4 linked regions of the Homo sapiens genome follow. The protein of the gene in region 1 interacts with the protein of each later gene in a pairwise test. Each region holds a gene or a part of one and is shown in the gene's direction. Other genes may lie near its edges. The genes, in order: PLEKHG7, APBB2, AGXT and GSN.

Region 1 (4,002 bases):
CTTTTTGTCTTTGTAATATCTTTTTCTAGTCTTTGGGCTGAGAAATGCTTTTCTTATACAACACGAAAACAGATATCGACAGTGTATAGCAGCATTCTTATTACAAGCCCAAACGGAAAACATCAAAGTATGTATTTTAATTTTGTAGGTCTTTGATTCTTCAGAGTTTACATAAGCTCCCCCCAAGTGTCTTAAGTAACAGTGAATGGAAAGTTTTGTGTTTTTCTCTCACCCACTTGGGAAGGGCAGATTTGGGAGGAGGGGAGGGGTACATCTAGTCCATATAATGCTCAAAAGCCTCAGTATTGACAATTTCCTCACACTTGTGGGGTTGAGGAACAATTTCCTCACACTTGCGGGGTTGAGGAACAATTTCCTCACGCTTGCAGAGTTCTCCTGCAGAAGCTCAAGAACTGCCTGCGTTCTACAGTTTCTGTAGGAAATGGGGGAAGAATTGATTTGGATTGCATGATGAACCTTTAAGATGCTCCAATCAGTTTCCAAAGTGCATATAATAGGATATTAGCTTAAGGAGGGCCTGGCGCAATAATGATCCCTGTCAAGTCAGCTTGTCAACCTTTGAAAAACTGCCATTGTTTTTACAGCTATGGAGTTGAAAGAGCAGCTGCCTGACTCTGGTTTCTCTGTCTTAGAAGTTTCTATTTTTGTATTTCCCCTGGTAGGCTTTCATCATATCTACAATGTGGCCAGACAACAAATGCAATATTCAATTTCCTGGGTCACTGCCCTCAGTCTCTTTCAAGTTATACTACAGGTTAAGAACTTGTTTCCACAGAGAATAGAAATTCCAGCAATGCCACTTTCAAACTACATATATTCTCAGTGCTCATTTTTCTAATGAGTTATCATTGACTATTGTTTCTTGATTACTCATAACTGTTATCCAACATGCATACCATACTCATTTAGCCCATCTGCATTTTCCTGTAAGATTAGAAGTATTTATATTAGATGTAAGAAAGAAAATGGGAAACATATGCAAATGTTTCATTAGTCTTCAGTTTTAAAGAGCTGGTCAATAAATATAGCAGAAAATATTAGCCCAAATATGTGAGAAATTGTCAGCTTAACATTCTAATCTCTATTTATGTATTTTTTTCTTTTTTTCAACAGAAAACATGGATGGCACAAATAACAACTGCAATTTCTTGCTTTACCAAGAGTCAGGAAACCAAGAAAATATCTTTATTCACATTGCCCGCAGAATCCTCTGAAATTTAGGGACCTAAAACAAGTGGCATGTCTTTTTAGAAGATTATGGTTTAAGGTATAATTTCATTCAAAGTTTTGTAACACTTAGCTAGTGATAAGCTAGAAGGAAATTTGCATTTTAAAGAAGTTTCAGAATTTGAAATTTTGAGCTAGGAAAATCCTCAGTATAGAGGAATAATGACTGCAACAAATTTGAACTCTGAGGAATTTCTTGACAAATATATACTGACATCCAGATTACCTTCTAATGCTTCCGTCAGGTTTGTAAGAGGTGTGAGTGAAGAAAGGTGCTAATTTGTAAAGGGTGAATGATCAGATAAATGGAGTATCAGAAGGAAAACAATGTCCACTGCTTATGTCCAATATGAACTCCAGCATCTTACTCTGTATCCATAAAATAATGAAACCAATTTTCCTTCATGGCCTGTCAATCAGTCTTAACCGCTTTATAGTCCTACCTCAAACATAATGATAAATCTTTAGATACAAAGCTTGATTGTTCTTTTAATATACAAAGCAATAAATAGGGACTACATTTAAGTAGCAGTTTTAAAATTCCTATTCTCAAACTCATCTCAGGTATATAGTACTCTAACGTGGAAGTAGAAAATCCCAAAGACTAAATTCCATTACTTTAAGATAGGAAGAAAAAAAAAATCTGGCTTTCACCAGTTAACACTTTTGCATGGCTTTTCTTGGCCTGTTGTGAAGTGTACAGATTTTCATAGACATAGTAAGGTATCTGTCTCTTAACTTTATTTTTTGAAGAATGATGGTGTTTGCCATAAAAATACTTTCTGGTTTTGATTGGTGTGTGTGTGTGTGTGTGTGTGTGTTAGCACAGTACAGTCACTTAATTTTATTTGGCAGGACTTCAAATTTCTTCAGAATTTTTATCATGAAAGGCAGTTTGAATAATTATTATCATGGCAGGATATATACTATTAACTACATTCAAGGAACTAGTTCTTAGGGTCAGATTATTGCATCAAAGGGAAGTCCACAAACTTCCATTTCAGAATCGTACCTTTTGCAATTTGCAAAGTGAAAGTAGTAAATTTATCAAATTTGGCTGCAAGACAACTGAAGCCTTAGCTGATTTTGTTAAGCTGAAGAATGGGGTAGAGAGGATAATGTTTGGGCAAGTCATGTGCCCAGTAATTCCTTGAGGAAGGTGAAATTTCACTATGCAAACAAAGCAGTAAAGACAAGTGCAGCAGAAAGGCTTTTGTACAAGGCAAGCACTATTAGAATGGAGACTAATAACCTCTTTATAATAATGTCAGAAATTTAATAGAAGAAAAAAAGGAAAATCTGGAGGACAGTAACTATTGTTAATAGCTAAGAATAAATGAGGTGGAGGGGAGAAAAAGGGGAGAATAGACTTCAAGCTTCAAGTGAATTCCTAGAGATGGCATCTGGATGGGACTGAAAGCAGTTATGTCCAGGAGAATACAATATAGATTATGCAAGAGAAGATTTTATAAAGAAATTTCTGGTTAAAAAAAATTTTTACATTAACAATCATCTTGCAAATGTTTAGATATAAACTAACCTCGGAGGTGAGCAGTGGACTAGGATGAGGTGGCCTCTCAAATTCCTTTAGTCCCATGAATCCAGCAACCACAGACTTACATGTATAAAGGTAGTTTTCTCCCTCTGAATCTCATTAAAGGGAGAGACAGACTGACTAAATTAACAAAATATATAAAACAGCTCAAGAATATGCTGTACATAAACTGGAATTCTATAAAGCTCACAAAGTAACATGTCTAATATACAATATATTAGATGTTTGAGGATATGCACATTAAACTCTTTGGAGGGTTTAGAATGAAGCACATTCGAATGAAGGGATCACGGGGGTCAGAACAAAAACCATTCTAGAACCGTGGCTCCCAGGAAGAAAAAATAGCAAAAAACAATGGCACATTGGGCCTTCCAAAAAGTATCTTTGGGGAGGGGAGGGAGAAAAATAAATAAATAAATAAATAAATAATGTTTTAAGTATCTTTAAATGGTCATCTGGGTATTAAATGCAGACACACAATGAAATAAGGGGTTAATTACATATTTTTTATATTTGTTTTTAGTTTTGTTAATTCTCTACAATATTAAATGGAATGTCTAAGGCAAAATGGCATTAATAATTTCTCTTGAGATCAGGAATTTAATTACTATTCGAAATTGAACAACATTAAAACACCACTGTCTATATCCAAGTGCAAAGTCCTAATATTCTGTAAATAAATTAATGCAAAATGGTTAATACAGTGTTCTCTCTTTTGTTAGACAAAACAATTTATAGTCACAGAATACAACTAGTTTAGAAAGAAATGTTTTTAATATAATATTTAAACATATTAAAAAAAAGCAACAATTCAATAAGGATCCTTCCATTGTTCTTTATACAGATTTAAATGCTGTCACGTACTTTATCAGTTACATTTATAATTAATAACCTTCCAATCACTGAGTTTAGAAATTGCAGTATTTACTGAGCTAACCTTTCTCACAAAGTAAGGCACAACTACATGATCACAAGTAGTAAACACAATACAAATAATGAACCCAAAAACTAAATGAGAAAATGTTCATGCATAAGTATCTACAGAACTTATGAATATATGATCCAGTTCAAGGAATTACAGAATGTCATATACACAACTGCATTGTGTTACAATAAATTTATTACTTCTACACAGAAAGAACTTAGTGACTTCTAATTCTATTTTATACAATTTTACATAAATTTAGTAAGTTTATGCA
Region 2 (7,035 bases), on another chromosome or scaffold:
ATGGTGAAACCCTGTCTCTACTAAAATACAAAAAATTAGCCAGGTATGGCAGCATGCACCTGTAGAATTGCTAGAACCCAGGAGATGGAGGTTGCAGCGAGCCAAGATCGCACCACTGCACTCCAGCCTGGGCAACAGAGCGAGACTCTTGTCTCTAAAAAAAAAAAAACGTGGGTTGATTACTGGGGGAACTCAGTTATCTTCCTATGTCTCTGATTGTGCCCTTTGAGGTTACATTTTCTCTGGGCATCAACCACACCTAATTAAATAGGACACCAAAAGCTGCTACTTTACTTAATATACATCAAAGAGACAGTAGCAGCTTTAACACATAGATGCCACTTCCTGCTTTCACATGCATTCCTATCTTGAAAGTTGAACAGGATTTTAACAGAGCCCCAATATCTGGAGTAATGCTGCTCTTGTAGAATAGTTGTTACATTTACATCCAGAAACATAGGGCGTTATGGCACAGGGCGTGTCCTGAGCATTCAGATGATGCAGAGCCACGGCTGTTGTGTACATGTGTGTTGGAACCACTGAGAAAGATGTGTTGCTTTTGTTCCCTGTAGTAGATTTTCCAACACCAAAGACTGAGCTGGTCCAGAAGTTCCACGTGCAGTACTTGGGCATGTTACCTGTAGACAAACCAGTCGGTATGTGAAATGTTTATTGTCTTTCCACTTTGCAAGTGTGCGGGAGCTCACAGGAGGCGTTCGCCCTCCGAGGAGGGTGAGGTCTGCTGTTTACTCTCACGCCTTGTCTTGAATCAAACTGTCACACTGTCACCTGCCAGAGAACATAAACGGTCCTGATCAAAAGATGAGTAGAGGGACAGGCCCCGCTGCTTTGACCTGTCATCCCCAGCATGCAGGACTTTAGCAATACAGACGTGGATTTCTTGTTTACCCAGTAGTCCAGAGCTGTGTGACTCAGGGCCGTGGAAGAGCTCCGCTGCTCTGAAACGAGGCCTCCATCTCTGAGGCCAGGGCACCTGCTTCGTGTCTTGTCAGCTGGCGGGCCAGGAGAAAGGACTGTGGAGGCTTCATGCTGTCAAGGAGTGACACAGTAGTGGCACACACAGCATTCAGCTCACATGCCAGGGGCAGAGTGTAGTTGCTGGGCTATACCAAGCCAAAAAGAGACTGGGAGATGAAGCCTTCACCAGGGCTAAAAAAGGCTGTGGAGAAATCGCAAGCTACATATACTGCCAAGGGGGCTGTAAGATGGTGCAGCTGCTTTGGAAAACAGTCTGGCATTCTTCAGAAGGTGAAACATAGTTACTTTAGACCCAGCAACTCAGTTCCTAGGCGTAGACCCAAGAGAAGTGAAAACGTTTGTGCATGCAAAAACGTGTATGCAAATGTTCACAGCAGAATTATTGATGAGAGTCAAAAAGCGAAACAACCTGAATGTCCTGACAAATCAACTGACAATTAGATAAATAAGATGTGATACTTCCATACAGTGGAATTTTATTTGGCAATAAAAAGGAATGAAGGACTGAAGTGCGCTGTAGCGTGGATGAAGCCTGAAAACATGCTATGAGGGAAGTCAGTCCCAAAAGACTGCATACTGTGTGATTACGTTCATATGAAACGCCCAAAATAGGCAGAGCTCTAGCGTCAGAAAGTAGGTAAGGGTTGCCTTGGTCTAGGGGTCTGGGGAGTGGGGGAAAAATGCAGAATGACCCCTACCAGGCACGGGGTTTCTCTTTGGGGTGATGAAACTGTTCTAAAATTGATTATGGTAGGTCTAGCATGGTGGCTCACACCTGTAATCTCAGCACTTTGGGAAGCCAAGGCAGGTGGATTGCTTGAGCCCAGAAGTTCAAGACCAGCCCAGGCAACATGGCAAAACCTCATCTCTACAAAAAAAATTCAAAAAATTAGCTGGGCATGGTGGCATGTACCTGTAGTCCCAGCTACTCCAGAGGCCGAGGTGGGAGGATCATCTGAGCCTGGGAGGCTGAGGCTACAGTGAGCCGTGATTGTACCACTGCACTCCAGCCTGGGTGACAGAGCAACACCCTGTCTCAAAAAAAAATTGATGATGGTGATGGGTGCGCTCTGTGAATGTACTAAAATCCACTGGATTGCACACTTTACGTGAGTGAATTGCATGTGAATGATACCTCAATAAAGCTGTCACTCCCACCCCTATCCCCCAGAAAAACTGTGGAAACAGCTGGCAAAAGGGCCCTACTCAATGGGGGGATCCACTGTAAAGGTGCCATCAAGAGACAGTGAGGGTGGAGAGAGGCTGAAGGGCCATGGTCTGCATAGGTAGACAGCGTCTAAGGCACCAGGTCCCCGGAGCTTCTCCTGACTCTCCTCTCCTACTGAAAAGGCTGTTATTTCTTTTTTTTCTTTTTCTTTTTTTGTTTTTTGAGACAGAGTCTCACTGATACTTGCCCAGGCTGGAGTGCAGTGGTGCGATCTCAGCTCACTGCAGCCTCCGCCTCCTGGGTTCAAGCAAGCATGTCCAGCTAATTTTTGTATTTTTAGTAGAGACAGGGTTTCACCGTGTTGGCCAGGCTGGTCTCGAACTCCTGACCTCAAATGATCCTGGCTCAGCCTCCCAAAGTGCTGAGATTACAGGCGTGAGCCACTACGCCCGGCCAGAAGCTGGTATTTCATTCCTGTTGAGCAAACATGAGAATGAAGTGTCCTGTCTATTAAAAAAAGATCAGTCTGGGCGTAGCTGTTATTGGTGATTTGGGCCCACATTTGAGTGTGGTAAGTGGCTTTAGGACACTTTAAATTATCCTTTTCTGTCCCCAGGAATGGATATTTTGAACAGTGCCATAGAAAATCTTATGACCTCATCCAACAAGGAGGACTGGCTGTCAGTGAACATGAACGTGGCTGATGCCACTGTGACTGTCATCAGTGAAAAGGTGAGAAGGAATCTTCGATGACATTGGTGTGTCTTATACAGTGAGTATAAGATACAGTGGTTTTCTGTGGAACTTAGGAACATAGTCAAGGCCGGAGTTGTGCATCCTTGTGATTAAGATGGCCTACATTTGAAAGATTTGGCCCTTTGTCTGGGTCTAAATCTGTGCATACCTCTGTTTTCCTGTGGCCTGAGAAACTTCTCTTCTGGTGCTTCTGATTCTGTCTTCCTCATGTGCCCCAGAGAGAAATTGTTTGCTAGAGGTGAGTGTGTGACGCTAGTAGTCGCTCACTCTCAGGGCGCCAGTATTGCCTGGGCTGTGTGATCTGGGGATGAAAAGCAGAAGATGCTTCCATTTGGGAGAGTCCTGTGACTATCAGTAGCAGAAGGAGCTATTGGTTGTCTTGAGAAGAGGCCACATTAGCCTCAGCCCAAATTATCTCAGTTTCGTGGTTGAAGAAATTGAAGCACAGAGAGGCTAAGTCATTTGCCCAGCATCACACAGTTGGAAGCAATGGAATCAGGACTTAAATCCAGGCAACCTGGCCCAGACTTGTGCCCACTTTTCTATTCTGCCTCTGTGAAGCACCTGCCAGGGAAAGACCACCAGTCATCAGCCTGCCCCACAGCTGCCCGGTTCACCCTGGAGAGAGGAGCAGGGTGCTCACTGCCTGCCTCCAGCTGGCCACACTGAGCTCTCCTCACCTCTTCAAGTAGGTCCCGCCCTTCCCCACACCAGCATCATCGCAAGCACTGCACCCTCCATGCTCCACCCTCTGCCTACCCGACCCTTACCCAGATCACCACCACAGCCTCCTTCCTCCTGAGAAAACTTCCCGACCTCTCACACTAGTGTACTTTGCTCATTAAACACTCCCAAGGCACTAGAGTGAATATTTAATTAGTCAAGATGTTAATGATCCAAAAGTCAACATTTTGGATGTGTTTATTAATTCAAAACTTGCATATGGTTCTTGCAAAGGATGTGGTGTTCATCCCTATGAGAAAGAATTCTGAACATTTCTTTACGCTGCCTCATGTGGATCCCAGATGGACACCAGTTTGCAAGAGAGAAAAGAAAAAAACAATTTGACAACTTTTTGTTGATTTGGCAGCTTTTTGTTTTATATGGTTTTAGATGGAAATGTGATTCAGTGTGCTGTTTAGTTTGGGTAAGAATCACTGGACGAAGAAAGATACCGTGAATCCCTTTTTTCTGGTGCTCTGGGGGTTTACTTGGCCAAATGGGTTTTGGGCCACCAGGTGTCCTGTATTTGGGCTAGATGTAAGAAGTATGGACGGCACTGTCCCTCCCCACAGTGAACTCACAGCCACGTAGCATAATGGAGAATGGGACCCACATCACACCCCATGACAGCAGTGTAGTTCAGAGCAAGAATGACCTCCAGAACAGGGTAGCCATGCAGTGATGGCCTCTTCAGACATTTGGGCAAGGTTCCGCCTTTCGAGAAAAACACAGGTCCTTTCTGAATTCGGCCTGGCTATACTTTCTGAATGCCAGTTCCTATGTGCTGCCACTCTTAAGCTTGATCCTGGGATCTCCTGATTGGATGCCGCATAATGTCTCTTGCAGAATGAAGAGGAAGTCTTAGTGGAATGTCGTGTGCGATTCCTGTCCTTCATGGGTGTTGGGAAGGACGTCCACACATTTGCCTTCATCATGGACACGGGGAACCAGCGCTTTGAGTGCCACGTTTTCTGGTGCGAGCCTAATGCTGGTAACGTGTCTGAGGCGGTGCAGGCCGCCTGCATGGTGAGTTATCCCGGTACAGGCTGTTGAGCCCTCCCGCCTCTGCTCATCTCTAATATGCCATACATTATAGCAGAATCACTCACGGAAATGAAAAAAGTCGAATCCCTAAAGTAATGCTTTACTTTATAACGCCGTCATTCCTAGGGCCAGAATCAGTTATGATAAACAGATTACATCTCCAAAGGCCAGAACTCCTGAAAGAAGTGGGGCCAGATAGAGGCTCCGATGAGTTTCATAACCACCACCTTGACGACGGTCAATCCTTGATCCCAAATCAATTTCATGTGTGAAATGTTGGTCGTGTATGAGTTGGTACTGTTTGGGTTCAATTCAGTACTTTAAAAATCAATACATTGAATGACTTTTGTTTCCAGTGATTGGTTTCTGTACACCGTTCTTATATATTTTATTTATATCTGTTAACTCAGTCCTTCCGACAACTCTGTTAGGTAGTTGTTAGTTCTGTTTTATTTATGAGAAAATAGAGACTTTAGGGAAGTTAGAGAATGGGCCTCAGGGCTTGTCGGTAAGTGACAGAGCCGAGCCTGGATTCAGCCCCAAGCTGCCAGGTGACAAAGTCAGAGCTCTTTATACCACATGGATACTTGGAAACAAACAAGAATCCCTCATTATTCCTTCAGCATGTGTCTTTGTGCCCCTCTTATGCCAGACACTGCAAAAGTTCTAATAAAAATGAGGGAACTGGGCCGGGGGTGGTGGCTTACGCCTGTAATCCCAACACTCTGGGAGGCTGAGGCAGGCGGATCACTTGAGGTCAGAAGTTCAAGACCAGCCTGACCAAATGGAGAAGCCCTGTCTCTACTAAAAATACAAAATTAGCCAGCGTGGTGGCGCATCCCTGTAATCCCAGCTACTCGGGAGGCTGAGGCAGGAGAATCACTTGAACCTGAGAGGCAGAGGTTGCAGTGAACCGAGATCGCGTCATTGCACTCCAGCCTGGGCAACAAGAGGGAAACCCATCTCAAAAAAAAATGAGGGAGCTATATGAGTGTGGGCACCAAAGCCTGTGGGCAGGTGTGTTCCAGCAGCAGCAGGTTGGGTGCTGGGCCCGAGTGGAAGGAGGTGCGGTCCAGATCATGGCGGGCTTATGATGATGGCGTGTGGGGGCCTGATTTTCTTCAGCAAGGATTGCTAAACTGGGGATTGAATTGATTGTATTTAGATTATTTATTTATTTATTTATTGAGATGAAGTTTTGCTTTTGTTGCCCAGGCTGGAGTGCAATGGCGCGATCTCAGCTCACTGCAACCTTCGCCTCCTGGGTTTAAGTGATTCTCTTGCCTCAGCCTCCCAAATAGCTGGGATTACAGGCACCTGCCACCACGCCTGGCTAATTTTTTATATTTTTAGTAGAGATGGGGCTTCATCATGTTGGCCAGGCTGGTCTCAAACTCCTGACCTCAGGTAATCCACCCGCCTCAGCCTCCCAAGTGCTGGGATTACCGGCATGAGCCACCGCACCCAGCCTGTATTTAGATTTTAGACGAGTATCCAGCAAAAAAAGAAGACAACCAAGTAGAGGATAGGTTGGAGGAACAAGGCTGAGGTGGCGATCAGCCAGGAGCCCAGTTACCTTCTGCAGATGGGAGAGAGGAGGAGCGTCCACGCTAGGAGAGCAGCGTTGGGAACAAACAGGAGCAGAGGCTTTGAGAAGCACCGAGCTGCCTGGCTGGGGGAGAACTGCTGCATGTGAAGCCCCTGGGCTTCATTTAATTCAGCCTCGCACTTACGGGCTGGAATCTGGGGCATTCAGCATGACTGAGATACAGTCCTTGCATTGTAGAGCTCAGGTATAGTGGGGGAGACACAGAAACCTAAACTCTGTTACAGTGTAGAAAGTGCTGTAAATAAAAGTATGAGGATCTTCACTTTCAGCCGGGCGTGGTGGCACATGCCTGTAGTCCCAGCTTCTGAGGAGGCTAAGGTGGGAGGATGGCTCAAACCCAGGAGGTCGAGGTGCAGTGAGCTACGATGGCACCACTGTAGTCCAGCCTGGGTGACAGAGCGAGACCCTGTCTCAAAAAAATAAATAAGAAAAATAAGTATGAGACTGTGCTGGATTGAGAAGTAACTGGGAAGAAAAAGAAGTGGAGGCCCTAAAAGCAGATAACTTACAAAGTTTGCCAGTGAGGGGGAGCTTGAAGGGCAGCATTGGAGGGTTTGTTCATGTGTTTATTTCAGGACAGGAGAGGCCTGCCCCTTTTTTATTCTTTATTTTTATTTTATTTTATTTTTTTTAAGAGATGGGATCTTGCTATATTCCCCAGGTTGGTCTTGAACTCCTCCCTGGAACGGCAGGGGAGCACCACCATGCCCAGCTAGGTTTTCTTTTGTGGAAAATG
Region 3 (7,912 bases), on another chromosome or scaffold:
TCAGATACCTTTTAGTCTTTATAGACACTTTCACAAGCTGGACTAAAGCCTTCCCACTCGAACAGAAAGAGCATCAGAAGTAACTACGGCTCTTTTAGAACACATTATTCCTCGATTTGGGGTCCCTCAATCCCTCCAATCAGACAATGGCCTGGCCTTTATTTCTTCTATTACTCCAGGAATCAGTGAGGCCCTCCAAATAAAATATCACTTACATGCTGCTTACCACCCACAGTCATCCAAGGGCCAAGCTAGCTTTGAAAACCCTTCTCACTAAGCTCTCTATAGAAACTCAACTGTTTTGGATAACTTTTCTTCCTATTGCCCTGTTAAGATCTAGAGTAATTCCCAAAGGTTTCAACCCACCTTAGCCCTTTTGAAATTATTTATGGATGCCCCTTTTTACAAACGGACTTATTACTTGATCCAGAGGCTCATTATCTGTCTCAATGTGATGCCTCCCTGGGCAAACTATCCAGGCCACTACTGAATACCAGGATAAATTTTGTCCAAAATCTGACCCCTCCTCATCAGAACTAAGACCTCCTGTTAACCTGGGGACTGGGTATATTTAAAAACTTTGCCTCCAGACAGAAAACCCCTTCCAGCCCTCTGGACTGGACCCTTTCAAGTCCTCATAGCCTCTCCCACAGCTGTTAACTGCAGGGATTCTCCCCTTGGGTCCACCTTTGCCACATAAAGTCTGTACTGCCGCCAGAACTCCAGCCTGCTTACACTTTGAGCCCTTGGAAGATCTATGATTTTTGTTTTGCAAACAACCAGGTGACACTAACCTCTCTTCAAAAGCAAAGGATACCACGTAAGCCTTTTGCTGTGTTTATCATTCACTTTCCTTTCCCTCCCTTGTCATTCATTTCCTTATGTACTCTAGAAGCGTTTTTAGGTCCTCCAATTTTCTGAGATTATCCTCAATTCACTTACTTTTTTTTTTTTTTTTTTTTTGAGACAGAGTTTTGCTCTTGTCACCCAGGCTATAGTGCAATGGTGCGATCTCGGCTCACTGCAACCGCCATCTCCCGGGTTCAAGTGATTCTCCCGCCTCAACCTCCTGAGTAGCTGGGATTACAGGCATGCACCACCATGCCCGGCTATTTTTTTTTTTTTTTTTTTTTTTTTGTATTTTTAGTAGAGACAGGGTTTCACCATGTTGGCCAGGCTGTTCTCACACTTCTGACCTCAGGTGATCCGCCCGTCTCAGCCTCCCAAAGTGCTGGAATTACAGGCATGAGCCACCACACCCAGCCAATTTACTGTCTCTTTATCCAATCCCCATTTCTCAAGACCCACATACAATTATTCAGCTTGCACTAGATTTTTATTTGCAGGGTGGTTTTTCTAATTATACTTGGAGCAACTTTTGTAACAGTCCTTGAATTAGAACAATGAGACTCCTTTTTTCTTTCTTTCATGTTTTTCTCTTTATCTCTCATATAAAAACTTCCCAATCCTCTTGGTTTGACAATATCATCTTCAGCATCTCACATGCTATTGTGAGAGGAGAAAATACTCTGTGTGGCTGGCTTTGCCGTCCACAACCTGCTACTCCAAGCCATGTAGATTCTTCTTCGTAAGCACACCCTGTCTCCAATCAAACTGTACTGTTGGGATTTCATTATTCTTCTCACCACTCCTTCCCACCCCGACCATTTCCTTCTGTGCTGGTAAATTGGAAACCACCTCCCTCTTCGTGCTATCATATTACTTCCCCCACCATCCACACTTACAATATCACTGAAACTTCCTTAACTTGTAATGTTATTTTGGGAGGTACACCTTGTTATAATGACACTCATGCAGCTAACTTTGACTCATTTGAGGCCTTCGCCTCCTACAATCAAAACTCTGACTCTGGCCAGGTGCGCTGGCTCACACCTGTAATCCTAACACTTTGGGAGGTAGAGGTGGGTGGATCACCTGAGGTCAGGAGTTCGAGACCAGTCTGACCAACATGGTGAAACCCTGTCTCTACTAAAAATACAAAAATTAGCAGGGCGTGGTGGCAGGTGCCTGTAATCCCAGCTACTCAGGAGGCTGAGGCAGGAGAATCGCTTGAACCCAGGAGCAGAGGTTGCAGTGAGCCAAGGTCACACCACTTCACTCCAGCCTGGGCAACTGAGTGAGACTCCATCTCAAAAAAAAAAAAAAAAAAAATCTGACTCTATCTCATCACTGCCAATTTATAAGCCGTTAAACTGGACCAGTATAGTGGGGCTCCCAGTATACAGCACCCCTGCACTCCTAATACCTTCATGTATGTTACTATAATGATGCAACCAGTGCAGGAAATAACCACCGTGCCACCTGGTTTACATCCTATGCCATGCACTGGCACCCGCCTGCTTTTAAACCTCCTCCATCAGTACATAAACATAGTCTTTCCCCCATATGAGTCCTCTTAAAACTGTCAAAAGGCCCATTTCCTTTTTTCCCAACATTTTAATTAAAATAATCATCCTGCCCCTCCTGGGCTCTTATGGCTTAGCAGCCCCACTAAAAACTATTTAAACCCTTTTCAAGCTTTGGCCCTATCCCACCTTGATCATTCTCTTCACTATGGTGATTGTAGCCTGGGAACAATAGCTCCCACCCAAATCACTGTCTTAAACATCACTTCTAATTCAGAATTCCCTTCTAGAAGGAAAAGGGCCCTGGGACTTACTGTGGCCGGAGTTGTGGGAACTATCACAACTCTTACCCCTTGGGGAGGTTTTACTTACCAGGAAATCACAAGTAAGAGAACCTACCGCCTCCCTTGAAATAGCAAAAGCTGGCACCCATCTATCAGCTCTACAAGTCATTAGACTCACAAGCAGGATTTTGGTGTCTGGTAACAGGTGAGTTCTGGATTACCTCCTAGCTGAACAAGGAGGGGTCTGTGCTGTCATCAACAGGACCCGTTGCACCTACATTTATGTGTCTGGAGAAGTGGAAACCGATGCCCAAGAAATCATCAAACAAGCCAAATGGCTACACACACTTTCCCAAAGCAACCAAGACTGGGCCAAAACTTTTACTGATTGGTTTTCAAAAAATCACTTGGCTTCCCCCATTCCTTAGACCTTTATCTTCTGTCATTTTTCTTTTAATATTTGGTCCCTGCCTTTTTAATGCTCTGATTGCTTTTCTATGTTCTACATGAGAACAATTCCACCTGCAGAAGGCTATGCATTCCCAACACTGGCCTGCAACTGCAGCTCGATTTACATGGGGCTTCTTGATGGAAATACCGGCCTGCAACTGCAGCTCCCATTTACGTGGGGCTTCTTGATGGAATCCCATCACGTGCCTCCGTGCACAAGTTTTCATGACCCTTTATTCCCTTCATGACCGAGAGCAAGAAAGGGAAAAACGTGACCTACCCCCCTGAACTCCCTTTCAGCAGCAAGTAGTCAGGCGCACTGGACACCCCTCTTCACTGTGCCGTTTCCCCTTTCTTGAGACCCCAACAGGAAGCAGGTGGACATGAGCATGGCAGAAAAGGAAGGGTCAAAGATTTCACCAAGATATTTGTCAGAGGGAAAATGAGGACAGCAAAGATCACCTGGAGACCATCAAGCAGGCCCCAGGTGGGGTGGGTGGAGGGGAGCCTCTTTATTTGAGAAATGTAGAATGAATTAGACTTCCCTATTATCTAAAGTTGGCACCTGGTTCCAGGCCTCTTTTCAACCTAAAACTTATACATAACTAGAATTTCTATACATCTCTGGAATGCAGCATGCTGAAACTCACTGTGCAACCCCTGCCTTGTGTGTGTCTGTATACCATGCAGGTTTGCTTGCTAAATTGAGCCTGTAAACCAAAAAGTACCTCAAACAGGTCTCAATTAATTTAGAAAGTTTTTGTTGCCAAGGCTAAGGATGCACCCGTGGTACAGCCTCAGGAGGGAGGACATCCTTGCCAAGCTCAAGGGTGCACCCCTGACCACAAGGGCCCAAGGTGGTCGGGGCACAGCTTGCTTTTATACATTTTAGGGAGATATGAGGCATCAATCAATACATGGGAGATTTACATTGGTTCCATCTGGAAGGGCGGGACAACTTGAATTGGGGGGCTTCCAGGTCATAGGTAGATTTAAACATATTTTGATTGGCAACTGACTGAAGAATTATTATCAGCAGAAAGGAGTGTCTGGGTTATGAAATAGGGGTTGCAGGGAGCAGATGATGCCTTCAGGTAGCGGGATTTAGAGAGAAAATAGATGGTAAATGCTTCCTATCAGACTTAAGGTCTATGTCGATGTTAATGCTGGGGGTTATGATGTGGCATGGCCTGAACGTCTTCCGGGTTAAAGTTTAGAGCACCCTGGCGGACAGGGAACCCCATTCAGATGGTTGCTGGGGGGCCTTCGAATTTTATTTTTGGTTTACAAGCCTTCCCATCAGCTGCGCCAGGGTCAGCAAACCACAGTCCATGGGCCCAATCTGGCCTGCCACCTGCTTTTTGTAAATAAAGTTTTATAGGAACACGCCCACACCTCTGGCAGCTGCTTTGCAAGCACGCAGCAGGGTTGAGTTGTTGCAACATAGACCACAGGGCCTGCCAAGCCTCAATTATCTGTGCTCCGACCCTTTAAGAAACACTTCTCTCACCCCTGAGCTAAGCAGAATAAGAGGGGCTGGACGTGCAGGACTCAGAGTGGGAGCGAGGAGGGCTGGGGTGAGGACAGCTTTGTCACACTCTGTTTTTCTGTCACTCAGCCCTGGGGGCTCCCTCTGCCTGAGGGCTTCGTCCCCTGCTGCCTGGCCGTGACCCGCAGCACAAGCACAGATAAGCCTCAGGGAACAAAAGGCAGGGCTGCCACGGAAGCCCATCCACCAATCCTCACCTCTCACCTCTGTGTCCGCCCTGCTGGGAAATATTCCAGGCTTTGGCCAAGGCCAGTGCAGCCCCAGGTTCCCGAGCGGCAGGTTGGGTGCGGACCATGGCCTCTCACAAGCTGCTGGTGACCCCCCCCAAGGCCCTGCTCAAGCCCCTCTCCATCCCCAACCAGCTCCTGCTGGGGCCTGGTCCTTCCAACCTGCCTCCTCGCATCATGGCAGCCGGGGGGCTGCAGATGATCGGGTCCATGAGCAAGGATATGTACCAGGTAGGAGTGGGGGTCACTCGGGGGGCCTGGGTCTCACCCATGTTCCCACCCACAGATCGTGGACGAGGGAAGGGGGTCACTGCCTCCTCACTTGGGGAGGCGGGGAGCCTGGGTCTCACCCTATACCACCCGCATGCAGATCATGGACGAGATCAAGGAAGGCATCCAGTACGTGTTCCAGACCAGGAACCCACTCACACTGGTCATCTCTGGCTCGGGACACTGTGCCCTGGAGGCCGCCCTGGTCAATGTGCTGGAGCCTGGGGACTCCTTCCTGGTTGGGGCCAATGGCATTTGGGGGCAGCGAGCCGTGGACATCGGGGAGCGCATAGGTAAGGGAGAGGCCCAGGTGGGGATGGCCCTGGATCCATCCTTCAAGGCCTCCCTGGCCTCCCTCTGTTTGAAGCTGGCAGCCCCCGTTCCTGGGTGAGCGCTTACCCACCTTGTGGCCCTGTGCGCACGAACCTCCTGCCAGCCCACTGCCTCCTCCAGGCGGTGTCGGGCACTCATGAGGCCTGACTCTGATAGGGCTGGGAGCAGCACAGGTGCCCCGATCCCCCCAGTCTCCTTGAGCTGTTTCTGGAGCATGTGCAGGACGGAACTACAGGGAAGCCTCTGGTCCCAGCACACACTCCTGAGAGCCCCGGCCGCTGTCCAGGGCCCCAGGCACCAGCTCTGCTTTGTGACAGGGTGGGGTTTCAGAAGCTGAAGCCTCCCCTCAAATCTCAGCAGCCTTCCTTCTGGAATCTTGATGTGATACACAAAATATGGAGGTATGGGCAGAGTATTCGCCTCCGGAGTACACTTTTCTGGGAGAGACACAGGAGCAGGAGTGTGCCCTGGGTTTAATGATTGATTGTGGCATTGAGGGACATCAGCTTGGTGAGCTCCACAATGGCCATGCTGGTTAATACGCGACCGCAACAGCCAAGAGGGTCCCAACCCCAAGTCCACAAACTTTTCAAGGGGACCCAGGGTCGGCAGAGGCCAGGACCCCAAGTGGACATCAGGGCACGCAGGCTCAGATGCCTGTGGTATATGGCTTCCCTTTTCCCCATTCTGTCCCCTTGGCCGCAGGTTCTTCCCCTCCCACAACCTGGCCCTGAACAGCACACAGGATAGGGCAGAGACAGGGAGGGGGTGAGGGCCTGATTCCTGGAGTCCCCAGCTCCAACAGAGGTCAAGGCTGCTGCCTCACTCACCCCTCATCCTTCAGTCTGTCATCCATCACACCTGTGGTGTGCCAGCCCTGGACCAGGTACACTCTTTGTGCCAGCCCTGGGCCAGGTGCAGCCCTGACTCCCGGGAGCTCACTCTCTGCTTGGGGAGGCACTGGTCAGTGTGGCCTGAGAAAGGGCATTTGAGCTGAGCTCTGTCAAGAGTGCCCCAGGAGCGTTGGCTCCAACAGCAGGGGGGTCAAGATGGCCCTGGCTCTACACACAGAGAGGCTCTCATTGGGCAGAGTCCACCCTCCTCTTCAGGCAGGCAGCCAGGGTGCCACGGTGGGTGGGGTCCAGCCCTCACAGGGCCCTGCTCAGCAGGGCCACGGGTGCCCAACACTGGCTTCTACAGTGTGTGCGGGACACTCACGGCCCACTCTGTCCTGCACCCAGGAGCCCGAGTGCACCCGATGACCAAGGACCCTGGAGGCCACTACACACTGCAGGAGGTGGAGGAGGTAGGGGACCCGGGGTGGGGGTCAGGGCCGGGAGGAGGTGGGAGTGGGCATGCTGGCTCAGGGGCTGCCTGGAATTGGCCAGCCAGCAGGGTGGGATCATGGCCGGGAGGCTGGTGGCTGACCCTCAGCCCATCCTAGCATCTGGTGAGCGGCCACAGGGGAGGGTTCCATTACCTGGGAATGGTGGGAAGACTGGTAAGGAGGCTTCTGTCTGGCAGGGAAACTGAGTCAGGAGCCTGGTCCTGTAGGCAGGGCCAGAGAGGCTGGAGGCAGGAGGCCGAGTTGGAGTCTAGGCTGCAGAACATGTCCCTGACACTCAGGATACCCCACCCTGTGGGCTGAAGTCAACCTCAGCCTACCCGGAGTGTGGGGACTCAGTCCATCTAGCAACAGCCCTCACAGGCCAGGCAACAGGCTGGGGGCACCCTCCTCCATCTCTGCACCAAAGTCCTGTTCTTGGAAAAGCCCTTGTCCCGGAGCGGAGATGCCCCAGCCTCCTCCTCCCATGCACACCATCAGGGAGGAGTAGAGGCAGGCCCAGCCCCTGCTACCTGGAGCTGTGCCACCCATGGGGGGTTTGTGGGGGTGTTCTGGCCCCTGCCCCTCTGAGCTCCACCCACAGCCGTCCCTGCTTCCTCAGGGCCTGGCCCAGCACAAGCCAGTGCTGCTGTTCTTAACCCACGGGGAGTCGTCCACCGGCGTGCTGCAGCCCCTTGATGGCTTCGGGGAACTCTGCCACAGGTGAGCCTGGCCCCAGGGCGGTGGACTGGAGCACAGCTCAGAGCCAGGCTATGGGGAGGGGTGGGCACTGGTCCCTCTGGTCCTTCTGCCCCTGGTCCCCACCCCAGCCTCTGTCACATGGTATGGGGTGCAGGCACCTCCCAGGTCCTCTTTGCTCTGGGCTGAGTCTAAAGACAACCCCAGGTCCCAGGGCAGGCTCAGGTGCTCCCTGGCCGAGCGCCCCCATAGTGCCCACTGACCTCTGTCCCCAGGGCTGAAGAGGGCTTGGTGCAGACTTCCATATCTTGCCAGGGCCTGTCCCCACCTCACCCCGAGATTGCCAGGACACTAAAGCTGCCTGATGCCCTCCACTTCCCTCCTCCAGCCTCCCTCATCCCCGCATGGGG
Region 4 (6,216 bases), on another chromosome or scaffold:
CAGGGTCCAAAGTCTGTGCCCTCAGCTCTGATGGGCTGTGTTCCTCCAAGTCCCCACCTGAGAGCTAGTCCTGCTGCGGGGTCTCCTGGGCTGTGAGGAGGGGGCTGAGGGCTTTTTGTCTGGTTCCTGATTAACCAAGCTGTACCCTCCCAGGTATTGCCTAAGGCTGGTGCACTGAACTCCAACGATGCCTTTGTTCTGAAAACCCCCTCAGCCGCCTACCTGTGGGTGGGTACAGGAGCCAGCGAGGCAGAGAAGACGGGGGCCCAGGAGCTGCTCAGGGTGCTGCGGGCCCAACCTGTGCAGGTGGCAGAAGGCAGCGAGCCAGGTAGGAGCCGGGGTGGGGGGCCTGCTGCTGTCCGGATGCAGCTATTAAGTTTCCCCCTTCTTTCCTTCAGCTTGGGGGCTCTAAATCCTCCCCTCCATCCCACCTGAGGGCCTGTCCCCTAATGTATGTTAAATAAAAGCAGTTGCATTAAAATGAGGGCTGTGGCCAGAGAGAGGGAGGTCTCCAGGAGCTAAAGAAAGGAGAGCCTAGCCTGGGCGTGGTGGTTCATGCCTGTAATCCCAGCACTTTGGGAGGCTAAGGCGGGCGGATCACCTGAGGTCGGGAGTTCAAGACTAGCCTGACCAACATGGAGAAACCCCATCTCTACTAAAATACAAAATTAGCCGGGCATGGTGGCACATGCCTGTATAATCCCAGCTACTCGGGAGGCTGAGGCAGGAGAATCACTTCAACCCGAGAGTTGGAGGTTGCGGTGAGCTGAGATCACGCTATTGCACTCCAGCCTGGGCAACAGGAGTAAAACTCTGTCTCAAAAAGAAGAAAGAAAGAAAGAAAGGAGAGCCCAGTGTGGGAAGGAGCAGTTGGTCTGTGGAAGGAGGCGGTCCCTCGCTAGGAAGCCTTGAAAGGTGGTAGGCAGGGCTGATAGCGTCAGAGGAGCAGTGGTCTCCTTGCATCTCTAGACTCTCCATGGACAGAAATGCCACCAGCCTGCTCTGTTTCCAGAATGTGGGCCGGGCAGCTCTTCCTTCTGCCAGCCTGCAGTCTTTATACTGTTACTTTGAGTTCATTCCCACCTGCTTGATGCTTAACAGAAATGGTGAAGAGTGACTTGGTCTAAAGCAGCTCTGTCCAGCAGAACCTTCTATGCAGATGGACATGTTCTGTATCTGCCGAGTCCAATTTGACAGCCATTAGTCACATGTGGCTGTTGAGCACTTGAAATGCGACCAGTGGGAATTAGTGGGAATGAAGAACTGAACTTTTAGTCGAATTTAATTTTAATGAATTTAAATTTAAATGGCTGCACATGGACAGAGCAGGTATAGTGGAAAGAGTATAGGTGTTAGAATCAGACAAGATTTGTATCCTGGTCTTAACACTTACCATCTGTGTGACCTTGAGTGAGTTGCTTAACCTCTCCGAGCCACAACTGCCTCATTAGCTGAGTGGAGCTAATGGTCCTCATCCCGCAATGCTGTCGTCAGCCTCAAGCCAATAGTGGTCCTGGCTGTGTGACTACTGCCAAGTCTGCCCTCTCTGGGCCTCTATTTCGTCACCTTCCAATTCCCTCAGGCCTCTTCCCTCTGGATCTCCTGGGATTTTTAGGATGGAGGGAGGAGAGGGAGAGCAGTTGGTTGCGCTTGGGCAGGGCTGGTCCCAGGGTCCGATGAGATGGGAGAGAGGGGTGATGGCGTCCCTTGGCAACTGGCGTGGCCTCCCCTCACAGATGGCTTCTGGGAGGCCCTGGGCGGGAAGGCTGCCTACCGCACATCCCCACGGCTGAAGGACAAGAAGATGGATGCCCATCCTCCTCGCCTCTTTGCCTGCTCCAACAAGATTGGACGTTTTGTGGTGAGCCCCTGCGGAGGTCACACCTCTGCTTTCCCCTCGGGAGGCGAGTTCCACAGGACTGGCCGGCAGCAGGGGCAGGAGAAACAGTTCTGATGGTGTGGCACAGAGGAAGGGGCCCCCTGCCAGCTGCAGCCAGCTGTGCCACTCCCTCAGGGGGCAGATAAAGGAAGGCCACCCAGGGGAGGGAAGACATCTCACTGATGCTCTTTCGTTCCTTCCCAGATCGAAGAGGTTCCTGGTGAGCTCATGCAGGAAGACCTGGCAACGGATGACGTCATGCTTCTGGACACCTGGGACCAGGTGGGTGAAGGACAGGTGAAGGCTCTCTGTGCCAGAGGGAGTGGGAGAAACTAGACTTCCAGTTCTATGATCAGTTGCTAGAAGGACCTAAAGGGGGCAGTGCCAGGTGTTGCCAGAAAAGTCTCTAAGGGTACTGGAAGTCACTTCTTCTTTCTGAGCTTCCATTTCCTCATCTGTAAACTGGGAGTGGCGGTACCTCCCTTGCAGATACACTCACCTTGAAAGCTGCAAAACGCCCTATAAAGGCAAATCACATGACCTTCATCATTCTCTCCCAGACCTTGCAGGAGCGTGAACTCTTCCTTTAAATCTGTTGGCAGAGGAAGTTGAACTTAGCAGCATCTTGTTTGCAGGCATAAACTGTCCAGTGTCACCTAGAGGCTCTAGAGGGCTCCTGCTTCTGGTTTGAGGGCTCTGGGCTCTGTCTCCACTTCATCTCCTAGAGAAGGCCATTATGTAGGACTTGGCAGGGGAAGATGCCATTCACTTACTCAACCAATATTAATTGGGCACTGCTTTGTGCCAGGTGCTTTATGTTTGAGATGCTGGGATAGAGCAATGAATAAAGTAGGCATTTTCCTGCTCTCCCAGGGCTTACGTTCTCACAGGGGTGTCAGGTCAGTCACCTTTCCTATCAAGGTGGCTTCTCCCAGAGTCCTCAGAGTTACGGAGCAGCTGGCCACGAAGGCATAAGACTCTACACTACCCACAGGGATGCTCGGAATCCCCAGTTGGAAGATCGGGACCAAAAATGATTGCAGCTTGAGCCATTCAGCAGTTGTCATTGATTGATCCATTGGCTACTTAATCTGTTTGTTCATCTGTTAGGGATTCAGTCAGCCAACATTTATTCAGCACCATGGTCTTGCAGGCAAAATGCTGAGTGCTGAGAATCCTATGATGAGCAAAATAGAATGCCTGCCTTCGAGGGGCTTCCACTTTAGTTGGGAACACATTTATAAATAAGTAAGAGAGGGCCAGACATGTTGGCTCACACTTGTAAACCCAGCACTTTGAGAGGCTGAGGTGGGCAGATCACTTGAGGTCAGGAGTTCAAGACCAGCCTGGCCAACATGGTGAAACCCCATCTCTACTAAAAATACAAAACAATTAGCCAGGCTTGGTGGTGGGTGCTTATAATCCCACCTACTTGGGAGGTCGAGGCAGAAGAATCACTTGAACCCAGGAGGCGGAGGTTGCAGTGAGCTGAGATCATGCCACTGCACTCCAGCCTGGGTGACAGAGTGAGACTCCGTCTCAAAAAAAAGTGAGAAAAATGAAGTCTGACATTTTATTGTCTAATGCCATTTTATCAATGATAGGTGCTCTTTGAAGTAATATTTTAGATATGCATAAAAATAGATGATACATAAAAATCAGCTAAATAATGTGTAATAGAACTTGTAACAAGACTCAAAATGGTGATAGTGGTGGGTGAGTTATTTTTATTCCAAGCCTTAGGCCCATTTTGACAAAGATGCACACAGACCGGCACATAGTAGACTCTCGGTGCATATTTGTTGGATAAATAAATGGGTGAGAATATGTTTGGCCACTCATTTGTTGAACGAGTGAATGCTGTTCAAGAGATAACTCATGGACCTTTAGAGAAGAATCTCAAACTCAATGCCTGATGGTACCTGGTTGGCAATGTTAGCGAATGAAGCAGGCTGGGCTGGGGAGACGTGAAGGAGCAGTGGAGTCTGAGGCAAACTAGAACTGCTCATCTCAAAGGGGCAGCTCCTGCGCAGCTTGACTCAAGTGAGGTTTGAAGGCCCAGGCTGCTAGATCCTCCAATTTTTAAAGAGAAGTTGGAAATCTAGATTTTTATGTCATAACGGTTTAAAAAGACATTGTTGGCTAACACAAGGTGGTGGGTGAGCAAACAAAACATGTTTGTAGGTTGCCAGTTTTCAACCTCTGTTCCAAATCCTTCCAGTCTTAGTTCATGGGCTCTGTTAGAAAGGGGAGGGCTTTGTCTGGTCTGATACCTGGCCCCTCCCCAGTCTTCCTCCAGCCGTGAATTTGATCAGCACTCCTCATGTACCTTTCCTGTTGCATCTCACCTCCAGGTCTTTGTCTGGGTTGGAAAGGATTCTCAAGAAGAAGAAAAGACAGAAGCCTTGACTTCTGGTGAGGACCCGAGTGCCTGGGGGCGGGGGGAGGGGTCCGTTGCTTGTGGGGTGCTGGGAGTGGCTCCTGTACAGGTCTGGGAATGAGCATCTTTCCAGGGGACTGATGGACAAGATAGGGTGGGGACTTCCTCCTCTGTGGGCCAGCCCCTCATAAATCCTGCCTGGGATAGTGAAGAACACATCAGTTCCTTCAGAAACCCTGAGGCTTCTCAAAGAAGGCTCTCCTCTGTTCCAGGAGAAGGAAGGGACAGATGAGAAGTCACTTCAAGTTCCCAGAATACTCAGAAGCTGAACTTGTCAAGGTTTAGATGTGGCAAAGCAGGCCAGGCATGGTGACTCATGCATGTAATCCCAGCATTTTGGGAGGCCAAGGCAGGAGGATCACTTGAGCCCAGGAGTTTGAAAGCAGCCCGGGCAACATAGTGAAACCTCATCTCTAGAAAAAATACAAAAAAATTAGCCAGGCGTGTTGGTGTACACCCGTGGTCCCAGCTACTCAGGAGGTTGAGGTCAGAGGATTGCTTGAGCCCAGGAGTTCACGGCTGCTGTGAGCCATGATCGCACCACTATACTGTAGCCTGGGTGACAGAATGAGATGGTGTCTCAAAATGAAAAAAAAAAAGAAAAAGATGTTGCAAAGCAGATTCTTGGCAGCTGAATAGATCTGATTTGTGAGCTGGGAACCCAAAAGTTGGTTCCCATATCTTCCAGTAGGGGACTGCAAGGGAAAGTAATAAGCTTTATGAAGCAGGAGATTAAGCCGTAGCCCTGTTCCTTCCTGTGTTCCTGAGCAGGGTGGTGGAGAGCCCACGTGGGTATCATGCCTTTAAAGGAGGATGGTGCCCAGGGCAGGGGGTGGGCAGTAGGGACAGTAGGACCATAGACCCTCTTCTTTGTCAACTCCTGTCCTGAGTCACCCTCTCCCTGGTGTGGGAGGCACTAAGAATTCCTGGGGTTTCCTTTTCTTGCACGTGTGTCTGCAGCTAAGCGGTACATCGAGACGGACCCAGCCAATCGGGATCGGCGGACGCCCATCACCGTGGTGAAGCAAGGCTTTGAGCCTCCCTCCTTTGTGGGCTGGTTCCTTGGCTGGGATGATGATTACTGGTCTGTGGACCCCTTGGACAGGGCCATGGCTGAGCTGGCTGCCTGAGGAGGGGCAGGGCCCACCCATGTCACCGGTCAGTGCCTTTTGGAACTGTCCTTCCCTCAAAGAGGCCTTAGAGCGAGCAGAGCAGCTCTGCTATGAGTGTGTGTGTGTGTGTGTGTTGTTTCTTTTTTTTTTTTTTACAGTATCCAAAAATAGCCCTGCAAAAATTCAGAGTCCTTGCAAAATTGTCTAAAATGTCAGTGTTTGGGAAATTAAATCCAATAAAAACATTTTGAAGTGTGTACTCTAGTGTGGCTCGTTTCCTTGTGCCCATCTGACAGTGAGAGCCGGCGTCTTCTCTGCCTGTGTCCCTGGTAATTCTGAGAATGGCCAGAGAGGTGCCTAGCATTTGCCTGTAAACTAGTAGAAAGGCTACATCCACCCTGTGCGTGAATCCTGGTGCCCTGAGAGGCGATGCCACAGTGAGTTGAGAGGTGTGTAGATTGTCCTGGGGGATACCTATGCTAAAGGAAATAAGGAGGGGCCGGGTACGGTGGCTCACACATGTAATCCCGACACTTTGGGAGACCGAGGCAGGCAGATCACCTGAGATCAGGAGTTCGAGACCAGCCTGGCCAACATGGTGAAAGCCTGCCTCTACTAAAAATAAAAAATTAGCCAGGCGTGGTGGCACATGCCTGTAATCCCACCTACTCGGGAGGCTGAGACAGGAGAATCTCTTGAACCCAGGAGGCGGATGTTGCAGTGAGCTGAGATTGCACCATTGCACTCCAGCCTGGGTGACAGAGCGAGATTCTGTCTCAAAAGAA

What was found.
Region 2: the proteins of PLEKHG7 (region 1) and APBB2 interact in binary tests that used the Homo sapiens proteins (3 or more experiments, as listed by UniProt).
Region 3: the proteins of PLEKHG7 (region 1) and AGXT interact in binary tests that used the Homo sapiens proteins (3 or more experiments, as listed by UniProt).
Region 4: the proteins of PLEKHG7 (region 1) and GSN interact in binary tests that used the Homo sapiens proteins (3 or more experiments, as listed by UniProt).

The regions. Positions count from the first base shown.
Region 1 is NC_000012.12:92,768,954-92,772,955, forward strand, and holds the end of PLEKHG7 (pleckstrin homology domain-containing family G member 7), read left to right. Parts: intron 1-29; coding exon 30-127; intron 128-1,134; coding exon 1,135-1,242; 3' UTR 1,243-3,502; downstream 3,503-4,002.
Region 2 is NC_000004.12:40,819,508-40,826,542, reverse strand, and holds part of APBB2 (amyloid beta precursor protein binding family B member 2), read left to right. Parts: intron 1-572; coding exon 573-656; intron 657-2,783; coding exon 2,784-2,899; intron 2,900-4,492; coding exon 4,493-4,672; intron 4,673-7,035. UniProt on the Homo sapiens protein: Plays a role in the maintenance of lens transparency, and may also play a role in muscle cell strength. Involved in hippocampal neurite branching and neuromuscular junction formation, as a result plays a role in spatial memory functioning.
Region 3 is NC_000002.12:240,863,924-240,871,835, forward strand, and holds the start of AGXT (alanine--glyoxylate aminotransferase), read left to right. Parts: upstream 1-4,900; 5' UTR 4,901-4,942; coding exon 4,943-5,107; intron 5,108-5,246; coding exon 5,247-5,439; intron 5,440-6,720; coding exon 6,721-6,785; intron 6,786-7,425; coding exon 7,426-7,526; intron 7,527-7,912. UniProt on the Homo sapiens protein: Peroxisomal aminotransferase that catalyzes the transamination of glyoxylate to glycine and contributes to the glyoxylate detoxification.
Region 4 is NC_000009.12:121,327,155-121,333,370, forward strand, and holds the end of GSN (gelsolin), read left to right. Parts: intron 1-153; coding exon 154-328; intron 329-1,736; coding exon 1,737-1,861; intron 1,862-2,083; coding exon 2,084-2,161; intron 2,162-4,233; coding exon 4,234-4,294; intron 4,295-5,279; coding exon 5,280-5,449; 3' UTR 5,450-5,688; downstream 5,689-6,216. UniProt on the Homo sapiens protein: Calcium-regulated, actin-modulating protein that binds to the plus (or barbed) ends of actin monomers or filaments, preventing monomer exchange (end-blocking or capping).